4 linked regions of the Homo sapiens genome follow. The protein of the gene in region 1 purifies or fractionates together with the protein of each later gene. This does not show direct contact. Each region holds a gene or a part of one and is shown in the gene's direction. Other genes may lie near its edges.

Region 1 (3,898 bases):
CTGGTTTCTTTTGCAGACTCATCCTCCTCTACCTGGCCATTAATGATGGGGTTTCTCTAAATTTGGTCCAAGGTCTTTTCACTCTACATTTTTCTCCCTAGGCTAATCACAGAAGTCTCCTAGAGATACCCATTTGTGTCACTGGTGTATAGGTAAAAATAGAACCTTTGAATTTCTGTGGAGATTCATAGATTCTATTTTTGAGCTCTAGACAAGTTCATCTAACTGCCTGATAGACATTCATTCATGAATCCATTCATTCAAGAAATATATCACAGCCTCCATGTGTAAGGCACTGTTCTGTGCTCTGATCATACAGCAATGAAAAAAACAAATCACTGCTCTCATGGAGCTTATGTTCTAATGAAGTAAATAAATACTATAGTAGAAGGTAGTAAGTTTTATGGAAACAAGGAAAGCAGGATAAGGGGATTCTTCCATGGATGAGAAGTTGGAACAGTGTTACAATTTTAAATAAAGTAGTCAGGTTATGCCTCACTGCAAAGATGACAGAAGATGAAACTTCACAGCTAGACTTAGACTTGGCTTTAAAGCCAAGTCGGAGGCTCCAGGGTAGGGTCCTTGACATGTTCAAGGAACAGCAGTAAGGCTAGTGTGTCTGGAGTGAGAAGAATAGGAAGGGATATCCAAGAGGGTACTGGCATCCAGGTAGTGTAGGGCAGGGGTTGGCAAACTTTCTGCAAAAAGTCAGGTAAGCATTTTAGCTTTTGTGGGCCATGTAAGGTCTCTTCCCCATAGTTTTCCCTTCTCTCTCTTTTTGAGAAAGGAGTCTTTAATAATGTAAAACTCATTCTTAGCTTATCCTCCTTAAGGACCCTAGGCTGGATTTTGTCCTCCCCTCTAGCTGTCCATAGTTGCTCAATCAACCCATGGTATAAGACCTTGTATGCATTACAAAGAGGCACCTCACACTCAACCTGTGTATGCCTGTTGCTTATGTTTCCTGTCTAGGCAGGTGTCTAGTATTGTTCACCCAGTTACTCCGGCCAAAAGCCTGTTAGTCATCCATGAGACCTTTTACTGTTGACCCTTTATAACAAATCCGTTGCCAATCTCTATTAATTTTACCACCTAAATTTCTCTAGTATCTGTTTCTATCTACATCATCGCTGTAGTCTAAGCATGAACAGTAGTTTCCTAACTGATCTCTGTACATCTACTTTTGCTCTCTTTCAATTCTGTCTTGACACAGCTTCCAGATTGATCCTTTAGAATCATGCCAACCTTTCTGTCAGAAATATTCATGACTTCTTCATGAACAGATTTGTCACGTTCCTACAGTTTCTCTGGTCTCATTTTATAGACACTGCTCTTTTCATTCTCTGCTTTTCAGTTCTTACATGTCATACTGCTCCCTCTTATCCAGAATCCTGGCACCTGCCCTTTCCTCGCCCTGGGATACTTTTTTCTTCTGCCCTGCACTTCTCACCATCCTGTAGACTTTAGTTCAAACCATTCAGCAACTATATTTGGATACCCAGTTTTTGTCAGTCCTGTTCTAGGCACTATGTGAACAAATAACTCAGATAAAATACATCATAAACTTCCTCTTGCAGAGTTTATAGGCTAGTGCATTTATTGTTGAACTCCATAAACCCAGTCAGTTGTGAATAAAATAAATATTTGCAACACCAAGTGTCTCATTTTTGAAGCAGGTACATTTGCCTTTCACATTTATTTGTGTGATTTTTTGACTAATTTCTGTTTTTCACAATATGCTACACACTCCATGAGAATAGGGACTCTATTCCTCCCTCACCCCACCATCATTGCCTCTCTAGCAGTGAACACAGTGCTTGACACATTAACAGGGATTCAATAGGCAGTTTTTGAACTGATACCTTAATGAGTTAATTGATTAAAAAATTAAAGTTGTGACCTTAATTTCCTCCTCAGGACTCCATAAGATGGACTTATATTTCCTTCCATTTTTTTCTGTAAATACATATACATTAATATTTATATGGCTTTTTATTACTTACCAGCTTTGGAGTAGATAATTCTTCTTTTAGGTCATGTAAACATGTTGTCAAAATTAAATTATGATTTTTTCAAGTTAAAATAAAATTACACTGAACACACATTTTGGACTTTTTTTAACCAAGAAAATTAGGTTCTTCTAACTACAGAAGTTTAACAGTCACTTTAGGAATTTATTACTATTAAGAATATGATAAGAAATGACTATTAAAAGTCACATATAAATACAGAAATAAAATTTTTTTTAGAAAAATCAATTTATTTATTTATTCCTGTACTACCCACTAAACAAATTAGGTAACTTAAAACTTAAGCTTAAACAAGATCTTCAGAGTAATCAATGGTGAAGCCAGGAGTAAAATAATCAAAATTATTGCTAGTTATTGAGACCTAGTTAGTTAATTCATATTAGTAAGTCAGTTTCTATATGGTTATTATGATGTATGGAGCTTTTTTAAATCCTTTATTCCATCCTCTGTGTGACATAAAAGTTTTAGACTGCTTTGAAATGCATTGTATTACTAAAATATTTATTTTAATCTAGATTTTTTGATTCATCAGGTGATTCTGGACAAGGATTAAGAATGTGGATCAAGCAGGTTTTAAATCAAGATTTAACATTCCAACACATAAAAATTATTTATCCAACAGCTCCTCCCAGGTATGCAGTAATTTATCTCACTTGTCAATATAACTCTGTGGCATAAAATATATATAGAGAGATGTGCCAGCTAGGTGTTCTTTAAGCTTAATTTTGTATTTAACATACTTTAAATTAGAGTACTTTGTCCCCAGAATGTATTCTTTATTGCAGTTACACTGTTGGACCAAGTTTTGCCAGGTGAGTAATTTATTCCCTTTCTGTAAAGCATTCCCTAAAGCTCTGAATTTAAACTGTGTCCCAAGCATGGCTTATGTAACTCTGCTTCCTCTTGCCCTGCAGATTGCTCAACTTTCATACTTCTTCCCTACATTCACCCCAAAAGGAAACTTAATAACTCCAACAAGTATAATCTTTCTAATAATTTAGTTAAGCCAGAATTCATAATCTCTGGGAAAGGGTTTTATGGCATTCTTTCCACATTTAAAAGGATTATCAAGAAACAATGTTATGCTTTTTTAATCAGTAAACCAGAATAGGAAGATAGAATTGACTACTTAATAAATATTTAGGTTATATAACCTGTAGGTGTGTGCAAAAAATTCACAGTAATAAAACTGCTATAGTTTTGAGGTCAAACTACTCTTTGTAAATATTAAATTAACATCTGCATAGTCTTTTATTCGGAACACATGCCGTAAATCAGGGATTGGGATTTTTTTTTGGTTAAGTGAAATGATGTGTGGAGCTACGCCCCAATCTGATTTTTCTCATAATCTGTTCTTGATTTTTTTTTGTTTCTTTTTCTTCTTCTTTTTTTATTTTTTCCAGACAGAGTCTCACTCTGTTGCCTAGGCTGGAGTGCAGTGGTGCAGTCTTGGCCCACAGCAGCCTTTGCCTCCCAAGTTCAAAGGATTCTCCTGCCTCAGCCTCCTGCCTAGCTGAGAATACAGGCATGTGACACCACGCCCAGCTAATTTTAAAGACAAGGTTTTGCCATGTTGGCTAGGCTGGTCTGGAACTGTTGACCTGAGGTGATCCACTCACCGCGGCCTCCCAAAAGTGCTGGAATTACAGGCATGAGGCACTGCACCTGGCCTGTTCTTGATTTTTTTCTTATCAGGCATACTATGCAAATGCCTTGCTTTATATTTTCATTAACTTAGTATTAAGGAGAAATAAAACCAGAACTTCAAGGACGTTTTTATATGTACTAATAAGAATTTACTTACTTTAATTGATAGAATTGAAAAAGGGAGAACAAAATGATAATGTAAGACTGAAGACTCAAAGGAG
Region 2 (4,035 bases), on another chromosome or scaffold:
GGGGCTAGGGACAGGGAGGAGAAAGGAGCCACCTGAGGCCCTGGGCAGGCTACTTGGTGCTCCACTGAGCCCACGATCTTTAAATTTGGACTCCATATTTGCGGGAGAGGTGAGACCATCTACTAAGTGAGGGGAGGAAAGAGAAGGGTTTGCTGTTCCCCTGTCCTCCTGGCCACTTCAGCTCCAGCAACCTAGAACCTCTGCCTCAGTTGTAGCAAAAACAGAAGCCTTGCCTTCCCCGGGTAAGGATCAGGTGTTCTTGTTAGACCATGCCCTTTGGGGGTCTTACCTTCTACTCCAAGGAGAAAACACAAAATACTTCTAAATTCAACAGTTTTCTGTCTCAAAGGAGTTCTAGAGGGAATAAACATAATTTTAGCCTTTTGCTGAATTTCTAGTCATGTGTTTGCTGCCCTTGTGAATGGGACCCCTCAGACAATAGCCTTGCAGGCTGCCTCTTCATCTGATCCTGGTCGAGGACCTGGTTGGGGGCGGTGGCAAGACTGACTTGATGCTGAGGGAGGAACTCATGACAGGCTCCTTGCCTCCCCTTCCTTCTTTTGGGGCCAAGACTGTGCAGGACGATGGGGGCTGGCTGAGTCTATAGGATCAATGACCTCTCGGAATCCACCAGGGTCAGTGAGTTTGAGGAAGTGAGGAAGGAGCTTGCTGACCATCCCTGGGAGCTTTAATGTTTACTTCTATCTTGCAGAGTTTTTCACTGAACTTCACCCTGCCGGCGAACACAGTAAGTACAGCAGCCCCCATTCACCAGGCAACGCAGAGAAGACCAGTGCAGAATTTACAGTAGGTCTCCAGAACTCACATAAACCCCTCACACACGGTGATAAGTTACACAGACTTTCTTTTTTTTTTTTTTTTTTTTTTTTTTTTTTTTTTTTTTTTGAGACAAGGTCTTGCTCTGTCACCCAGGCTGGAGTGCAGTGGCATGATCTCGACTCACTGCAACTTCCACCTCCTGGGTTCAAGCGATTCTCCTGCCTCAGCCTCCTGAGTAGCTGGGATTACAGGTGTGCACCACCATATCCGGCTAATTTTTGCACTTTTTAGTAGAGACAGGGTTTTGCCATGTTGGCCAGGCTGGTCTCAAACTCCTGACCTCAGGTGATCCGCCCACCTCAGCCTCCCAAAGTGCTGGGATTATAGGTGTGAGCCACCGTGCCCGGCCATTTACATAAACTTTCAAAACGCACTGAGGAATAGTTGAGAGATGCTGAGAGAATTTATTTCCATTATAAAACTTATAAATACACATTTTGAAAAGGAAAATAGGAAAACAACAACAACAATAAAACACCTAAACTCTCATCAGCAGAAAACTGGTGTAACCCTTCCTGTCCTGTTTGGCGTTACATAAATTTTGACTTTTGTTGCCTTTGTACTATTGTTTTCTTACTCTACATATAATTTTATATCTAAATGTTTTCCACTAGTCTTTATAACCATAACTGTTATATGGTTAATCACATAATCATGTGATCATATTATGATCGCATAATATTTTTTCAAGTTAATTATTTCTTCAGTTGATTAACTATCATTAGGAATAACTTTGTGATACATGGCATTTTAGAGAATCCTTATCTGCATTTAAGATAATTTCCTTGTATGTATTCTAAAATGGGAATGATTGGGTCAACAAGAATGAACATTTTATGGCTCTTGATTATGGCATTTAGTTGCAAGTCAAAATTGAGGTTTTCAATTGTCGATGTTAGAGTTTCAATCCACAGCTGATCCTCCGTCTTCTGTTTGCACATTGCATATAGATAACACTAAGAGCCAAGGTTGTTATCTGATCAGTAGCACTACTATGGTTGAGCAAGGCATTTTTCTGGCCCAGTTTTTTAGTGGGCTTGGCTGTGCCACATTTTTCTGATAAGTTGTCTGGTTATTCAAAGAGAATAAACTGAATCTTACTCGTAAGAGGACTCCTAAGCCAGTGCTCATTTTACTGAAACATGGGGGCATAGTTCTAGAGAGTAGCATAAAGTTAGAACATTGTGACTTATTGCTGGACCTGTGGTGCCCACCACTGTCTGCCCAGACCTCTGTGAACTGAATACATTGGCACCTGCTCCAGCCTCTGGTGGGGGGCACTTCTGAACCTCCCCAACTTGCTCTGCTTCCCTGCTTCAGCTTCTGCCTGTTGGTTTCAGGCAAATTCCCTAATTCTTCCTCTTTTTCCTGTCAAAACCTTTTCCTTCAATCACTGCTGGAACTTTCCCCTGGCTGTTGGAACCCAGCAGGTCCATAGACACTCCAGGTTCTGTGTTATCTTGGCCCATCACATCAAGAGAATGCAGAGAAGCAAGAAGCCATTTCTTGGGGAGTGGGGGTGAATGGGGTGGAAGAGAGCCCTTATGTGGCCAGTCATCACCCTTTGGAGTACTCTCTTGGTTAACAGCTCATTTCTCTGAGAACTGTCTCTTCACCCCTTTGATCCCGTGTAGAGCAACCAACCATTTTGCTTTGCCTGGTGTTGTCTGTTTTTAGCACTGAAAGTCCTGGGCAGCTCTCTGGACAATGCGGATGGTAGGTCATCCTGCCTGGAAGTCACATTTCTACTGCATAACCCTTCCACTTCAGTGCAGCTGGGTAGCCTGGGAATGCCAGTGCCCTGGGAAGTGGGACAGAGGTGGGCACCTGGATCCCTCTCTGCGGGAAGTTTGGAACAGGGCTCCCTGCTGGCCAGTCCCTGCTGAGGACTGAAATGCCAGGTTCAGTCTATTTGTCAGTTCAGTCCATACTGAACTGTCAAGTATGAAAAATGGGACTAAGACACTGCATTAGGCCATGGAGGCCATGTAGCACAGTGGTTAAGAGCATGGATCCCAGAGCCAGACTGCCCGGGGGGGTGTCACCTAGGGCTGTGTGACCTTACACAAGTTACTTCACTTCTCTGTGCCTTGCTCCTCTCATCTGTAAAATGAGATCATCATAGTCCCATTACTATTCACTGGCAGTTGTATAGAATAAATAAGTCAATATGGGAAAAATTCTTGAACAGCCTGGCACATCCTAAGTGCTCCATGGCATTAGCTGGTACAATTAGCAGGAGTTTATGAGGGCAGAAAAGTCCATCTGGAGAGAAAGAGAGAAGCAAACATCAGAGAACAGTACAGGCAGAAGGCCGTGCTGCTCTGGAGCGAAGGAGAAAGGAGGGTGCCTTCGGTTCACACAAGTTCCCCGTTCCAAGGTCCACTCCCTGGAGAAACCAGCTTCCCACCTGTCCTTGGGCTCCATGGGACACTCCCATATTCTTAGAGTTAACACCTTCCTTTTTTTTTTTTTTTTTTTAGTGAAAGCCACCCTAAGTGTATTTCTGTACTCTGAAGACAGGAAGCCTTACCTGAAACAATGGCTGATTCTTCCTACTACCCTTAGAGCACCTTAGGGAAATGCAGGATTAAAGTAGTGTGGGGGTAGGGGTTGGGGAGATTGTGATTAGGTCAAAGGACAACCATTTAAGTACCAAGTTTCAGTGCCTGGTCATCAAAACCTTCTTTTGATGGGAGCTCTCTGGGAAAGAGGTCTGGGCTTGGAAGTCAAACATCCAAGTTCAGATTAGAGTTATGATTATCTGTGAAACCTTGGACAAGCCCCATAACTTCTCTGAGATCTATTACATTTTTTTTTTGTAAAATGGAGTTAATAATTGTCAAAAGTCCAAGCCCCAGGACTCCAGTATACTTGATGAGATTGCTGAGAGTATTAAATAAATAACAGATCTGGACAGAGCTTTGCAAAGTGTAAAGGGCTGACAAGAGTTCATAGTTCTGCTCCTCATTCAATCCTCCTAATAACCCTAGAGGCAGCTACTACTATCCCTGTAGATATTGTGTAGATAGAGACATGCAACCCCTTAGCTTGTAAATTGAGAAATGGCTGTTCTATGGCAGGCAGTGTGAGCCCAGGACCTGTGCTCTTAATCCCACAGCATACCACTTAGTGTAGTTTACATAGTTTCTCATGCAGAACTTTATTCCTTTAGATTTCCTAATCAAGGTAAAC
Region 3 (4,536 bases), on another chromosome or scaffold:
TAATTATTTAAAAGCTTAATATTTTTTCTTTAGTCAACATACCAATCCTTACATTAATTCTACAGAGTAGGTATTATCTTAGTTTCGCAGGTGAGGAGACTAAGGTTCAGGAAAAAGGATTTGCCTGAGTAACAGACCAGGCCGCGCGCGGTGGCTCACGCCTGTAATCCTAGCACTCTGGGAGGCCGAGGCGGGGGGATTGCCTGAGCTCAGGAGTTCGAGACCAGCCTGGGCAACGCGGTGAAACCCCGACTCTACTAAAAATAAACACAAAAAATTAGCTGGGCATGGCAGCGTACGCCTGTAGTCCCAGCTACTTGGGAGGCTGAGGCAGGGGAATTGCTTGAACCCGGGAGGTGGAGGTTGCAGTGAGCCGAGATCGCACCACTGCACTCCAGCCTGGGCGAGACTCCCGTCTCCCCAACGCGCCAAAAAAAAAAAAAAAAAAAAGGAAAAAAAAAAAAAACTGAGTGTTGAGCTGCGGCGTTGCTTGGCTTCAAAACCCATTCCTGTAACCTCTATATTCACAGCCTCATTTTCTTACATTTAACAGCATGCTACTTCCCCAGGTTTAACCACCATTTGTTTTATTCATTTATTTACCCAATAGGTAGATATTGAGTCCCTACTATGTCAGCTAATAAAACCCACCACGTGCTATGCAGCAGATTAAAAACGAGGATGTACTGGCAAATAAGGGCAGAGAGGATCTATTCTAGATCCAGGAGCCCTCTAGGCCACGCCACTCTGAAACACACACGAAAACTGCTCTGAACGAATACCACCAGTAAAAGGGTTCCATGGCCATCGGCAACAAGGGGTCGAGATCAGGAGGTCGCTCGCCGCCCAGTTGCGTCGCTCACCACCGGCCGGCCACCAGACCCTCGGCTTCCGATCCAGAAACCGTATTTTGTTCTTGCACCCAGACCGCAAGAAGCCTCAGCCCTCGGGGACAGACCGAAGGCCAGGGCTGTACCTGGCTCAGAACCAGGCGCCAAGCGGCACGGGACTCTCCTTCTGCACTCGCAGCGCGTGAGTGCAATTGGAGATCCTGGACTCAAGATGTTTTCATGAGGAACGATTCCAGCCCGCGGTAACTCCGGCCAGTCTGCAGCGTGGACGACAAAACAGGCACCACGTGGTTCCGGCGCCGGGGCGGGGCCAGAGACGCCGGAAGTGACCGCGCGGTGCGCCGGCCCGCGAGGAAACGCGCTCTTAGACCATGGCGACCCAGGCGAAGCGTCCACGGGTGAGTGGCGGGCGCGGGGTCCAGCCTTTTCCTCCGCGCCTCACCCCTTCTCCGTTCGCAGAACCGTCCGCCTGCGCCCCCTCCGCTCCCTCCCGCGGGTCCCGCGCCCCTCTCCGCTCGTCCCCTCCTCCACCCAAAGCCCGTTCTGCGCTCGCGCCGCGGTCTCCTGCAGTTCCCAGCGGCCTCTCTGGGGGTCGGACCTGGTCACTGCGCGCACTTATCTCAGGTGGCGGGGCCCGTGGACGGCGGCGACCTGGATCCTGTGGCCTGCTTCCTGAGCTGGTGCCGGCGGGTGGGGCTGGAGCTGAGTCCCAAGGTGAGCGAGCGAGCCGGCGGGCGGAGGACCCGCGGCGGGGCGCGGGCTGCCCTGACCAGCCCTCCTGCTCAGGTGGCGGTCAGCCGGCAGGGCACGGTGGCCGGCTACGGCATGGTGGCCCGGGAGAGCGTGCAGGCCGGAGAGCTGTTGTTCGTGGTGCCGCGGGCCGCGCTCCTGTCGCAGCACACCTGCTCCATCGGCGGCCTGCTGGAGCGAGGTGGGCACGGCGGCGGGCTAGGGCCCTGGGGCGGGGCGGGGCGGGGCGGGGCGGGCCCGGCCCGCGAGGCCGCGCCGGGGCGCTCACACCTGTGTCTTCCTCAGAGCGAGTTGCGCTGCAGAGCCAGTCGGGCTGGGTGCCACTGCTGCTGGCGCTGCTCCACGAGCTGCAGGCCCCGGCCTCACGCTGGAGGCCCTACTTTGCGCTCTGGCCCGAGCTGGGCCGCTTGGAGCACCCGATGTTCTGGTGAGAGCCTTGGGAGGGGTTGGGGAGCGCCTGCACCGTAGCCTGCTGCAAGAAGTTTCCCCGCCCCTGCACCAGTCCTACCCAGTAAAGTGTGTGAAGGAATGAAGGGAACCTGGGTGTGGGTGTCCCTGCAGGCCAGAGGAGGAGCGCCGGTGCCTGCTCCAGGGCACAGGCGTACCTGAGGCCGTGGAGAAGGATTTGGCCAACATCCGCAGCGAGTACCAGTCCATCGTGCTGCCCTTCATGGAAGCCCACCCCGATCTCTTCAGCCTCAGGGTTCGCTCCCTAGAACTCTACCACCAGCTGGTGGCCCTTGTGATGGCCTATAGGTCAGTGGGTGGGGCCTCTGAGGACGGAACCCTTTTCTTTACAACTCTATAGAGGGACAAAAGTGGAAAAACAGTGAAATCCACCCCCAGTCCCTCACCCAAGACAGGGCCTTAGCCAGGTTCTGTCAATGGCAGCTTTCAGGAACCACTGGAGGAAGAAGAGGATGAAAAGGAGCCCAACTCCCCCGTGATGGTGCCTGCTGCAGACATACTAAACCACTTAGCCAATCACAACGCCAATCTAGAATACTCTGCGGTGAGTGGAGTTTCTCTTGGTGCACTGATTGAGCATGATTCAAGCCATTGTGTCTTAGGCTCCATTCTCTTACTAGTGCTACAAAATGAGTAGGTGAAATCAGCTCCTCCTGTATGTCCTTTTAGTATGCATATTACTGTAGAATCATTTGAATGCGAAACATTTTAAAGTCCTCAAAGTAAGTTGTGGTTAATCCTCTGATAAACTATACTACCATCATTTATTTAGTGCTAGACATTGAGTGGTCTGCATAGCCATGTTTCATTCCTTTCTGGCTGATCACATCAGTGAGCCCAGACTGTGTGTGGCTCTGTGGATAGCAGCCTGGAACAGTGATAGTCTCCGTGTTTTGGAGGGATGAGGACATTCACAGGCCAAAGGTCTAAGACGATCCTAGAACTGATATAAAGCTGTGTTTATACCAGCTCTATTCTATATAAAAAGTAGCCTGAAAAGATGGCACATTTATAGGATCAGAAATTAGTAAGTATGGTTATTTCTTAATCCTTGCCTCCATTTTCCTTTCCCACTTTGATCTGCGAAAGTTCCATTTTTTCCCCCCCGAGGCGGAGTCTCACTGTGTCGCCCAGGCTGGAGTGCAGTGGCGTGATCTCGGCTCACTGCAACTGCCGCCTCCTGGGTTCAAGCAATTCTCCCTGCCTCAGCCTCCCGAGTAGTTGGAATTACAGGCTCCTGCCACCATGCCCGGCTAATTTTTGTATTTTTTAGTAGGGATGGGGTTTCTCCGTGTTGGCCAGGCTGGTCTTGAACTCCTGATCTCAGGTGATCTGCCCACTTTGACCTCCCTAAGTGCTGGGATTACAGGTGTGAGCCACTGCGCCTGGCCGAAAATTTCGTTTTTAAAGCTAGCAACTTTTTAAGTGCTGAAGAGGACTGTGCAGAAATCCACCCAGTTAAACATGAAGCTGGCCTTTTAAAGTTAGCCCAACCCTTTTTTGTTTCACAGTTTAGGGTCTAACAGGAACTAAAGGTAGAACTTTGGTAGTTAACAGCATCAGTCATGGCTGAACTACACCTGCTGAAGGCTCTTCTTAAGTGGAAATAATCTTCATGGGGCTGGCCCGTGAAAGGCATGGCCCCAGCTTCTCCCTTTCACCTCAGAATTGTCTTCGGATGGTAGCCACTCAGCCCATTCCTAAAGGCCATGAGATTTTCAACACTTATGGGCAAATGGCTAACTGGCAACTGATTCATATGTACGGTTTTGTTGAACCATATCCTGACAACACAGATGACACAGCTGACATTCAGATGGTGACAGTTCGTGAGGCAGCATTACAGGGTGAGTGTATCATTAACTCAATATTTGACACTGATGGTGTGTCTATACCCATGCCTCAGGTTAAATAGCTTTGCTAAATAGCAGTTGACTTTGTAGACTGGGTGGCAGACTAAAGAAGAAATGAACCCTTGGGTGTACTGAGACTTTCACATTGCTGTTTCATCTACAGGAACAAAAACTGAAGCTGAAAGGCACCTAGTGTACGAGCGCTGGGATTTCCTATGCAAACTGGAGATGGTAGGGGAAGAGGGAGCCTTTGTGATAGGGAGGGAGGAGGTGCTGACTGAAGAGGAGCTGACCACCACACTAAAGGTAAACGGCTGAAAATGGCCATTTAATGCTGATAATCTAAGTATTTAAAGCAAAATAGCTAGAAGATGAGAGAGGAAATGTGGGATTTTTAATAAATGCTAAGATGAGTTTAGTCTCCTGAGTCATTTCAGAAGTACAAAAGCAGTACATCTAATTAAAGAGCTCTGTGGTTGCTTCTAGGTACTGTGCATGCCTGCTGAGGAGTTCAGAGAGCTTAAAGACCAGGATGGAGGGGGAGATGATAAAAGGGAAGAGGGCAGCCTGACGATCACAAATATTCCCAAGCTCAAAGCATCGTGGAGACAGCT
Region 4 (4,773 bases), about 200 Mb from region 1:
TACTCAGGAGGCTGAGGCAGGAGAATCGCTTGAACCCGTGAGGTGGAGGTTGCAGTGAGCCAAGATCGCACCACTATAAAAAAAAAAATCTATTGTGTGAATATGCTACACATATTGACCTATGAACCTTGATGGACGTGGGAGTTGTTTCTAGGTCTTTGCTGTTGAGTTTTGAGAACAGGGGCTGCGGCAAACAATCTCATCCACACCTCCTGGAGCACATGCCTAAGGTTTTCTCACGGTATAGACCTAGGAGGGAAACGGCTGGATCACCTGTGAATTCCACTTTCGGGGTCGCCTGCTCTTTGACCTCATCTCCCACCCCTCTCTACTTTGACTACCAAGCTCCTGTCACACTGGCCTCCCCTTCCTTGAACAAGTCAAGCCCATTGCAGCCTCCAGAACTTCGCACCTGCTGTCGCCTCCCTTCAGAGCGCGTTTCTTTCAGGGATTCCCGTGGCTGGCTTTTACTTATCCTCAGGACTCCATCAGATATGACCTCCTCAGCCCAAATGTCACTTTCTCTGTCCCCCCCATCTAAATGACTTACTCCCATTCCTACCCCAATCACCTATGTTTCATTTTCTTTTCTTCTCTGTTTTTTTTTTTGGTTTTGTTTTTGTTTTTTGAGACAGTGTTGCTCTGTGGCCCAGGCTGGAGTGCAGTGGCATGATCTCGGCTCTCTGTAGCCTCTGCCTCTCCGCTCCCAGGTTCAAGTGATTCTCCTCCCTCAGCCTCCCAGTAGCTAGGATTACAGGTGCTGGGATTACAGGTGCTCACCACCACACCTGGCTAATTTTTGTAGTTTTAGTAGAGATAGGGTTTCATCATGTCTCGAACTTCTGACCTCAAGTGATCCTCCCACCTTGGCCTCCCAAAGCGCTGGGATCACAGGTGTGAGCCACCGCTCCTGGCCTAGACTCAAACTCTAGAAGGGCTGAGACCATGCATTTTTCACAGCTGTATCCCCTAGAACAGTGCCTGATACATAGAGAAAAAGTGCTCAACAAGAATTTTTTTGTGGAGGTGGGTACTAATATAAATCTCATGTTAGAGAGCAGAAAACTGAGACTCAGAGAGGTTAAGCCATGCGCCCAAAGTCGCAGAGCTTGAAGGTGGCAGAACCAGGATTGAACCGTGGTCTGCCCGGTTCCAGTGCCCCTGTTCTTTCCGAAAGAGGAGGTCTTGTCCTGACATGAGCTTTTCTTCCTGAACTCTTGTTATCAGTTGGCCACTCCACACCACCTGTCCAGCCACCTGTTGGAGGGAACGCTAGGTCCTCCCTTTGGCTGTCACTTGTCCATCTGCAGCAGGCGAGGACTGTGGCCTTGGACCATGGGAGACCTGGAGTTCCACCACCTGTTCTGGGAGTGGGGCCCAATCAGCCCCCCTGCTTACCTTCTGCCCTATATTAGAGCCCCAGGCTCTGTGCCCTTTTCCTATCATCACAAAACTCATGATGCTCCGGCTGCTCAGTTCCCTCCTCCTTGTGGCCGTTGGTAAGACCCCAACCTGTCTGTGTGCTCCCTGGGCTGCCCTGGACTAGGAATCCTTGAAATCTACCACTCGCTCTGAGTCCCATGACATGCTATGCCTGGTTCCACAGGAGGGGGTCTCAGCTTGTACCCGGGGGCATGACTGTAGGGGCTTTCAGCTTATGATGGAGCAGGAGAGTGGAGGGGAAGCTGTGGATGGTGAAAGACCCCCAAAGGGCTGTGGTGGAAGTCCTTGATGGGGGCAGTAAACAAAGTCAAACGGTTAAGAGTTTGGACTGTGTGGTTGGACTTCTTGGGTTGGAATTTCCACAGTTCTACTTACCACTCCAACTCTCCTCTCACTCCCCCTACCTGGCTCCATATTCTATGCTCTGGCCTTTTCCTGGTCTCTCTGCCATATTACATTCCAGCTCAGGGCCACCTCTTCCAAACAGCCTCCCTTGACTGACAATAATGGTAACAGATAACATTGATTGAGTGCTTACTATGCCAGGCAGAATGTTTAGGGATTTTCTTATACTTTCTCATGTAATTCTCACAACAGCCTCAGGAGATCAGTACTATCATTATCCCCCATTTTACTGACCCTCAAGGAAGTAAAGTAGCTTATCATAGAACAAAAGGCAGAGCTGCACTTAATGTTTTTATTTTTTGCTTTTTTTTTGTAGAGATGGGGTCTTGCTTTGTTGCCCAGACTGGTCTCAAAATCCTGGCCTCAAGCAATCCTACCACCTTAGCCTCCTGAGTAGCTGAGATTATAGGCACATGCCACCATACCTGGCTACTTTATTTTATTGTACTTTATTTTTCTAGAGATGAGGTCTTGCTATGTTGCCCAGGCTGGTCTCAAACTCCCGGGCTCAAGCGATCCTCCCGCCTCGGCCTCTCAGAGCACTAGGATTACAGGTGTGAACCACCACACACAGCCCAGAGCTGCACTTTGAACCCAGGAAGTCCTTCTTTAAAGCCTCCACTCTGTATGACAATAGCTCTCACTTTTTGAGGGCTCATCGAGGGCCAGGCATTGTTCTAAGTGTATCAAGCTCTTCAATCCTCCCAATGAAGGAGGCCACATTTGAATCTCTATCCCTGGACTCCTGGGATTCTGGAAAGCCCTGCTCTAGTTTAAATGTTCACTGTTCATATGTGGTTACTGAGGTCCAGAGGGCGAAAGGGGCTTGCATGGGGTCACACAGCCAGTTGAAGGCATGGCTTGGACTGGGACCCTGGCCTCCTCTTTGCTTTTGGGGACCCTCCAGCTGATTGACAGCTCTCCTCTCCCCTCTAGCCTCAGGCTATGGCCCACCTTCCTCTCACTCTTCCAGCCGCGTTGTCCATGGTGAGGATGCGGTCCCCTACAGCTGGCCCTGGCAGGTAAGAGCAATAGCAGCTGCCCTCATTCCCACCGTGGGCTCTGGACCCTAAGCTCTAATGGCGTGGCATCCAGCCTTGACACCATTGCTCCCTTTGCAATGTCCACTTCAGCTTCCAAAGACCAGGCAGCCCTTGGACCATCTACTTCACGGGGAGGTTTTGCCCGTTTCATCTGTAACCCTCACTGGGCTATTTGCAACTTAAAATTGGAATCGGGGGTGAAGGAAATGCTAAACTCAAGGAGTTGGCACACTGATGGTGGAATTTCAGGCACTGTGTTGACGAAGTGAGATTTTGAGAGACTCATTTCTAGATTCCTAGGATGATACTACAGGGCTTTGAGGTCTGAAAGCAATAAGGGAGTGAGGGATCTTGTAAGGCCAGTGGAGGGAAGCTCAGAAGGCTGGACTTGATGTGCTGTGGCTATTTAAATTTAATTAAATTAGGCCAGGTGCGGTGGCTCACGCCTGTAATCCCAGCTACTCAGGAGGCTGAGGCAGGAGAATCCCTTGAACCTGGGAGTTGGAGGTTGCAGTGAGACAAGATTGCACCACTGCACTCCAGCCCCGGGCAACAGAGTGAGACTCTGTCTCAAAAAAAAAAATTAAATTAAATTATTATTACTATTATTATTGAGACAGAGTTTCACTCTTGTTGCCCAGGCTGAAGTGCAATGGCACAATCTTGGCTCACTGCAAACTCTGCCACCCGGGTTCAAGCAATTCTCCTACCTCACCTCCCAAGTAGCTGGGATTACAGGCACGCGCCACCAAGCCCGGCTAATTTTGTATTTTTAGTAGAGACAGGGTTTCACTGTGTTGGCCAGGCCAGTCTGGAGCTTCTGACCTCAGGTGATCCACCTGCCTCGGCCTCTCAAAGTGCTGGGATTACAGGTGTGAGTCACTGCACCCAGCTGAAATTTACTTACATTAAAAATGTTAACAATTCATTTCCTCAGTGCTTTTTTCTTTTCTTTTCTTTTCTTTGTTTTTTTTTTTTTTGAGACAGGGTCTTGCTGTGTTGCCCAGGCTGGAGTGCAGTGGTGTGATCTCAGCTTACTGCAGCCTTGACCTCCTAGGTCCAAGCAATAATCCCACCTCAGCCTCCTGTGTAGCTAGGACTACAGGCATGCGCCACCATGCCCAGCTAATTTTTATACATTGTTGTAGAGATGGGGTCTCACTATGTTGCCCAGGCTTGCCTCGAACTTCTGAGCTCCAGTGATCCTCCTGTCTTGACCTCCCACAGTGCTGGGATTATAGGCGTAAGCCACCATGCTTGGCCTGCTTGCCACATTTCAAATGTTCAATAGTCACATGTGGCTAGTGGCTACCATATTGGACAGCAAAGATATAGAACATTCCCATGATTATGGGAAGTTTTATCGGAGAGGGTCAGCAGGCTTATTCTGTAAATGGCCAGAGAGTGAATATTTTAGGTTATTTGATGGTTTGGATAGTAATGACTTGACTGTGCCATGGTAGCATGAAAGCAGACACAAACAATACAGAAATGAATGTGACTATTTCCAGGACATCTTTATTACAAAAACAGACCAGAAGCCTGATGTGCCCCACTGTCCACAGTTTGCTAACCCTGGTCTAGATGGAGCTTTTGAAAATCAGAATGTGTAGGAAATGGGAAGAGAGGCAAAGAACTCATCAGGGTGAGCTGTGCTTCAGAAGGCTCAAGAGGCCTTGAAAGAGCTGAGGTTCAAAAGAGTCAGGGGGGCTGGGCGCGGTGGCTCACGCCTGTAATCCCAGCACTTCGGGAGGCCGAGGTGGGCAGATCACCTGAGGTGAGGAGCTCGAGACCAGCCTGGCCAACATGGTGAAACTCCGTGTCTACTAAAAATACAAAATTAGCCAGGCACGACGGCAGGTGCCTGTAATCCCGGTTACTG

What was found.
Region 2: the proteins of LYPLAL1 (region 1) and OPALIN purify together in Homo sapiens (co-immunoprecipitation; one large-scale study listed by IntAct). This does not show direct contact.
Region 3: the proteins of LYPLAL1 (region 1) and SETD6 purify together in Homo sapiens (co-immunoprecipitation; one large-scale study listed by IntAct). This does not show direct contact.
Region 4: the proteins of LYPLAL1 (region 1) and CELA3A purify together in Homo sapiens (co-immunoprecipitation; one large-scale study listed by IntAct). This does not show direct contact.

Annotation. Positions count from the first base shown.
Region 1 is NC_000001.11:219,176,585-219,180,482, forward strand, and holds part of LYPLAL1 (lysophospholipase-like protein 1), read left to right. Parts: intron 1-2,562; coding exon 2,563-2,662; intron 2,663-2,815; coding exon of another isoform or gene 2,816-2,842; intron 2,843-3,898.
Region 2 is NC_000010.11:96,351,968-96,356,002, reverse strand, and holds part of OPALIN (opalin), read left to right. Parts: intron 1-712; coding exon 713-748; exon of another isoform or gene 749-807; intron 808-2,474; exon of another isoform or gene 2,475-2,547; coding exon of another isoform or gene 2,548-2,556; intron 2,557-4,035. UniProt on the Homo sapiens protein: Central nervous system-specific myelin protein that increase myelin genes expression during oligodendrocyte differentiation. Promotes oligodendrocyte terminal differentiation.
Region 3 is NC_000016.10:58,514,316-58,518,851, forward strand, and holds the start of SETD6 (N-lysine methyltransferase SETD6), read left to right. Parts: upstream 1-1,201; 5' UTR 1,202-1,222; coding exon 1,223-1,249; coding exon of another isoform or gene 1,250-1,475; coding exon 1,476-1,782; intron 1,783-1,886; coding exon 1,887-2,028; coding exon of another isoform or gene 2,029-2,133; exon of another isoform or gene 2,134-2,162; coding exon 2,163-2,357; intron 2,358-2,492; coding exon 2,493-2,613; intron 2,614-3,580; coding exon of another isoform or gene 3,581-3,592; exon of another isoform or gene 3,593-3,704; coding exon of another isoform or gene 3,705-3,735; coding exon 3,736-3,916; exon of another isoform or gene 3,917-3,917; intron 3,918-4,085; coding exon 4,086-4,228; intron 4,229-4,408; coding exon 4,409-4,536. UniProt on the Homo sapiens protein: Protein-lysine N-methyltransferase. Monomethylates 'Lys-310' of the RELA subunit of NF-kappa-B complex, leading to down-regulation of NF-kappa-B transcription factor activity. Monomethylates 'Lys-8' of H2AZ (H2AZK8me1).
Region 4 is NC_000001.11:22,000,219-22,004,991, forward strand, and holds the start of CELA3A (chymotrypsin-like elastase family member 3A preproprotein), read left to right. Parts: upstream 1-1,438; 5' UTR 1,439-1,456; coding exon 1,457-1,499; intron 1,500-2,784; coding exon 2,785-2,870; intron 2,871-4,773. UniProt on the Homo sapiens protein: Efficient protease with alanine specificity but only little elastolytic activity.